2 separate regions of the Homo sapiens genome follow, and region 1 is linked to region 2. A link means that fine-mapping ties the variant in region 2 to the expression of a gene that starts in the linked region. Tissue or cell type: whole blood. Region 2 holds a variant in brackets; the other region holds the start of a gene. All regions are shown on one strand. Distances are between the middles of the regions.

What was found. PIP is the estimated chance that this variant, and not a neighbour inherited with it, causes the effect.
Region 1: YEATS2 starts here. The variant in region 2 is fine-mapped to the expression of YEATS2 in whole blood (TOPMed, PIP above 0.99).

Annotation. Positions count from the first base shown.
Region 1 is chr3:183,696,426-183,699,109 of GRCh38, forward strand. It overlaps YEATS2 (YEATS domain containing 2), which reads left to right and starts at 1,372. Exons shown (of 31, transcript NM_018023.5): 1 at 1,372-1,568. RefSeq lists a silencer at 1,277-1,746.
Region 2 is chr3:183,771,364-183,774,047 of GRCh38, forward strand. It overlaps YEATS2 (YEATS domain containing 2), which reads left to right. Exons shown (of 31, transcript NM_018023.5): 16 at 942-1,200; 17 at 2,270-2,431. Among named protein-coding and RNA genes, the nearest start is that of YEATS2-AS1, 38 kb to the right of the region's middle. The variant C/A (reference allele first, on the strand shown) is at 1,416.

The DNA.
Region 1 (2,684 bases), 75 kb before region 2:
TTTTTTTTTTGAGATGGAGTTTCACTTTTGTTGCCCATGTTGGAGTGCAATGGCTCACTGCAACCTCCACCTCCCGAGTTCAAGTGACTGTCCTGCCTCAGCTTCCCAAGTAGTTAGGATTACAGGCATGCCCAAATACACCTGGCTAATTTTTGTATTTTTAGTAGAGACGGGGTTTCACCATGTTGGCCAGGTTGGTCTTGAACTCCTGACCTCAGGTGATCCGCCCGCCTCAGCCTCCCAAAGTGCTGGGATTACAGGCATGAGCCACCGTGCCCAGCCAGGAGGATCTCTCGAGCCCGGAAGTGTGAGACTAGCTGTGGTGATAGTGAGACCTGTCTAAAAAAACCAAAATTAGCCTGGGGGTGGTGGTTCACGCCTGTAATCCCAGCACTTTGGGAGGCTGAGGCGGGTGGATCACCTAAGGTCAGGAGTTCGAGAGCAGCCTGGCCAACATGGTGAAACCCTGTCTCTACTAAAAATACAAAAATCAGCCAGGCGTGGTGGCGCGCGCCTTGTAATCCCAGCTACTTGGGAGGCTGAGGCAGGAGAATCGCTTGAACCCGGGAGGCGGAGGCTGCAGTGAGCCAAGATCATGCCACTGCACTCCAGCCTGGCAACAGAGGGAGACTCTATCTCAAAAAAAAAAAAAAACACAAAAAACAAAACACCACTTATATTTATTATGCGTTGATAAAAACATTAAATACATTAAAAATTTGGTAACATGTATGTAAAGTATAAAAAAAAAAGTGAACTTCCTAAACCCACCACTCAGCTCCAGTAGTAAATCGTTATACAGTGAGAAGGGATTGAAGGGGAACAGAAGTTCCCCAAGACCAGTTGGGAGGCTATTCATAGTCTTGGGCAGAGAGATTACAGGGTCTTGGGTAGGGTGGTAGAGTTACAACGAAAGAGAATGTTGGCCTCAAGTGATATTTAGGTGGAAAACTGGACTTGGATTGTCACTAGCTAGTGTGACTGAGATAAGTCTCAAGCCTTCCCTGCCTCAGTTTCTTCATCTGTAAAATGGGCTAGAAATAACTACTGTTATTTTGTATACCCAGCACTTAGCACATGGGTTGGCACAAAGATGGCACACACAAACATCATAGTCACTATTGTGATTAATAGGGAAGCTCATACACGCCGGCAGAATGAATATTCTGTCAAACTTGGGGTTGAAATTCGCCATCTTCTGGGGCAGGAAAGTGATGGACGACTGTGCCTTTGCAAGAATCGACGCCCACACTGCCCAGGAAGTGCCCTCGCGGGCCGGGGTCCCAGCCCGGACCAGCCCCGCCCCGCCCCGCCCCGCCCTCATCCCTGGGAGCTCCGCCCCGAGGCCGCGCGCGCCGCCGCGCGCGCCCCGACGCGCCCAGCTGCTGACGTGCGGGGCGGAACGCGCCGGGCGGGCTCCACCGCGCCGTGTGCTTCCGCAGGTTGCGGGGGTCGCTGGGGCCTTGTGGCGGGGCAGCTCCGCGGGGCTTCGCCCGCTCTCTCACCTCGCCGTGCTCTCTCGCGGCGGCCGGCGGGGCCCGCGCTGCAGCCGGAGACCCGGAGAAAGGGTGAGTGTTGGCGGGCGCAGGAAGGGACCGGCCGGGAGCGCGCCCCGCTCTCCGGGGCATTGTTTGGGCGGGGGCGGCGCGGGCACGTGCGCGCCCCTCCCCCATCGGCAGGCAGCGCGGCAGCGGGACCCGGTGAGGCCCCGGGGCCGAGGGGAGGGCAGGGAGGATCCCAGGTGCGGGCCGGGGAGCCGCAGAAGCGGGAGCCTGGAATTGGAACGTGAGTTGGGGGCTTCCTCTTCAGCGGGGCGCTGCGCTGAGGGGATACGGGACCCCGAGCCACAGCGGCCGGAGCTTTTAGGATGTTAAGCTCTTGGCCTTGGAGGCAAGATTTGGCCCCAGCACCAGAAAGTCGTGGGTTTACCGAAAGGATCCTGGAATGCCCCTCCAACCTGTCGCCATCCCCACCGGGCCTCCCTGGGATGGAGGGGAGGGGTCAGAGAGGCTTTGGGGGTCCAGGGATGGGGCCGGGGCCAACGCGCCGGAGCTGCGGGCAGTGCGGGGCGGAGTGGAAGCCTCGGAAAGTGAGGACTCCTGCAGGAAAGGCTGGCTTGAAGGGCTGTGGCCAGACTGCAGAAGACAATGAGGTTTTCTCCATCATGAATGTGATTATGTTAAGAAATAGAAACCAGAGGAAGAGAAATGCCATCAGCAATCTTACAGGCCTGACACATCATTTTTTTTTAGTTTGATGTTGGCTAGTATTTTCATCTAAGCATTCAGCAGTTACAGAGTTGACCCACGTTTTCCATTCCCTTTTCTCGCTCACATGTAAAAAATGCGGTATAATATTATATAGAATTCAGCAATATCATTTCCCCTTTCTTAATGAGTAGAGGGTATTCAGCGTAGAAAAATTTAAAAATACAAGCAAAGCCAGAGAAAAATGCCCGCAGTTTTACGATCTAGAGATACTACCCTTGGATGTATATTCCTGTTTGTGTATACTCTTTAAAAGATAGGGCAGATGATGCCCTGATAAGGAGTTTAGTTTTTCCCGGGAAGCCTTTGAAGGTTTTGAGAAGGCGAGTAGCATGATCCGACTGCTATGTAGAGGAAGAGGGCTGGGGAGGAACCTACGAGGTCAGTTACTGTGCTCTTTGCAGTAGCTTGGACTAG
Region 2 (2,684 bases):
CTCCAGTTTGCCATTCATTCAGTGTTTAATTTAACATCCTACTGTTGACTTTGTTTTAAAAACACTCCTGAGTATTTTCTTAAAAGAATTCATTTTACTTTTGGAACTAGATACTTCTAATTTTCATTATTTGGGTACTGGGGTCTTTTTTTTTTTTAATAGTTAAATATTATTCTTGCCTTTTTTTTTTTTTTTTTTTTTTCTTTTCTTAGGGTCTTGCTCTGTCACCCAGGCTGGAGGGCAGTGGTGTGATCACGGCTCAGTGCAGCCTTGAACTCCTAGGCTCAAGGGATCCTCCCCTGCCTCAGCCTCCTGAATAGCTGGGACTACAGATGTGTGCCACTGTACTGGCTAATTTTTTTTTTTTTTTTTTTTTTTTTTTAGACAGAGTCTCACTCTGTCACCCAGGCTGGAGTGCAGTGGCATGATCTTGGCTCACTGCAACCTCCACATCCTAGGTTCAGGGGATTCTCCTACCTCAGCCTCCAGAGTAGCTGGGACTACAGGTGTGTGCCACCATGCCCAGCTAATTTTTGTATTTTTAGTAGAGATTGGATTTCACCATGTTGGCCAGGCTGGTCTCGAACTCCTGACCACAAATGCTCCTCCTGCCTTGGCCTCCCAAAGTGCTGGGATTACAGGCATGAGCCACCACGCCCGGCCAAACTTTTTTCTTTATACTTCTGAATTTCCCAAATTTTCTATTAAAGTAAATTATAAAAAGTAGCTGAGGCAAGACAACAATTGTTAAGCTTCTATTATTGTAATACCCAAGTGTAAGAAATACAGTTGCCGTTCACACCTGTGTAGGTAGCTTTCCTAGATGACTGAATTAGGCTGCATGTATTATGTGCAGGCCTTTGTTTTGCTCTCTGCCAAAACGGTGACTGCTGTTCTAAGAGCTCTCGAAGCACCGTTGGACTCTGCTCTGTTTTGAACAGGTTGTCGGGGTACCAGTTGGGTCTGCTTTACCTTCAACAGTGAAGCAGGCTGTGGCGATCAGTGGTGGCCAGATCCTGGTAGCCAAGGCCAGCTCTTCTGTCTCCAAAGCAGTTGGGCCAAAGCAAGTTGTAACCCAAGGAGTTGCCAAAGCAATTGTGAGTGGAGGTGGAGGAACCATTGTTGCTCAGCCAGTGCAGACCTTAACCAAGGCCCAGGTTACTGCCGCTGGTCCTCAGAAGAGTGGATCCCAGGGTTCAGGTAAAACGGATCATCACTGGGAGCCCTTTCAGCAGAAGCTCTGTCCAAAATTTCCTTTGCTAGTGATTTTATTTGCTATTTGATCTGGTCTAGGAAAGCCTAGTTAGGTTGATGCTGTAAGAAGTGTATTGAAATGTTTGTTCTTTTTTATGGGACATTTTACATAAAGGTCTGTGAGTATTTAGCTTTAAATTTACACACACACACACACACAC[C/A]CACATACACACACACACACGAACAAATCATTTCTCAGTACTGTGGGGGATTGGTTCCAGGACCCCCTGCTGCAGATAGCAAAATCCACAGATGCTAATCCACAGTCCCCTGTGTAAAATGCTGTACTGTTTACGTATAACCTATGTACATCCTCTGATGTACTTTACTTTATATCATCTCTAGGTTATCTTAATACCTAATAACAATGTAAATAACAATGTAATAACAATGTATATGCTATGTAAATAGTTGTTACACTGTGTTGTTTAAGGAATAATGACAAGAAAAAAGTCTGTACATGTTCAGTACAGATGTACTCATCCTTTTGTCTGCCAAATATATGGATATTTTTTATCTGAGGTAGGTTACATCCATGGATGTGAAATCCACAGATACAGAGGGCCAATGGTACTTGCCAGTTAGGAGCACACATTTGCCCTAACTTTGACTTTAAACAAATGGGGGAAAATATGTAATCCTCCATAGACAGGGTGATTATTTCATTAATCGTCCAAACCACAGTACTTTGGAGAGTAAAAAGAGTCATTATTAATAATTATAGTGGGACAGGTGTAACCTAGAACTGTTCTGGGCAGAACCAGGACGTACGATCATCCTATTATATACAGATATAAAGAGCCTCTGGCAGGCTCTTCTGGTCTATAAATTATTTTTTAATTAGCAAGATATTTAAGAATATCAGTCTTTAAAGCATTGTGCATCTGGGAAACAAACTTTGAATTTATTGCTTGTTAGTGTTCTAAAATAAGAATTTATTGCCTTGTATTTTAATTTTAGAGTGTTGCCCTTAGTTTCAATTTATCTTACAATTTTTTCTCCTTTACCATTTTAGTAATGGCAACGTTGCAGCTACCAGCCACTAATTTGGCCAACTTGGCAAATTTGCCTCCTGGCACTAAACTCTACCTAACTACAAACAGCAAGAACCCTTCAGGAAAAGGAAAACTGCTGCTGATCCCTCAAGGAGCCATCCTGCGAGCTACGAACAATGCTAGTTAGTGAAACCATTGGGTTGAATCATTTGGTTCTTGGTTCTCTATGTGTGTTCATCTTGTCCATCTGAGGGCAGTTCTTACCTGTTTCAGGAAGCATTTCTGTAACTCTGTTGGGTGGTGTAATGGTAGCATTTGCTCAGATGGATTTAACACATACGATAATTTAACTAGAAGTGGGTTTGCTCCTCAGCGTTTGCAATCAGAGATGAATCACTCTGGAGAGAGATGGCTGGTGAGGCTGTTGGGAGAAAG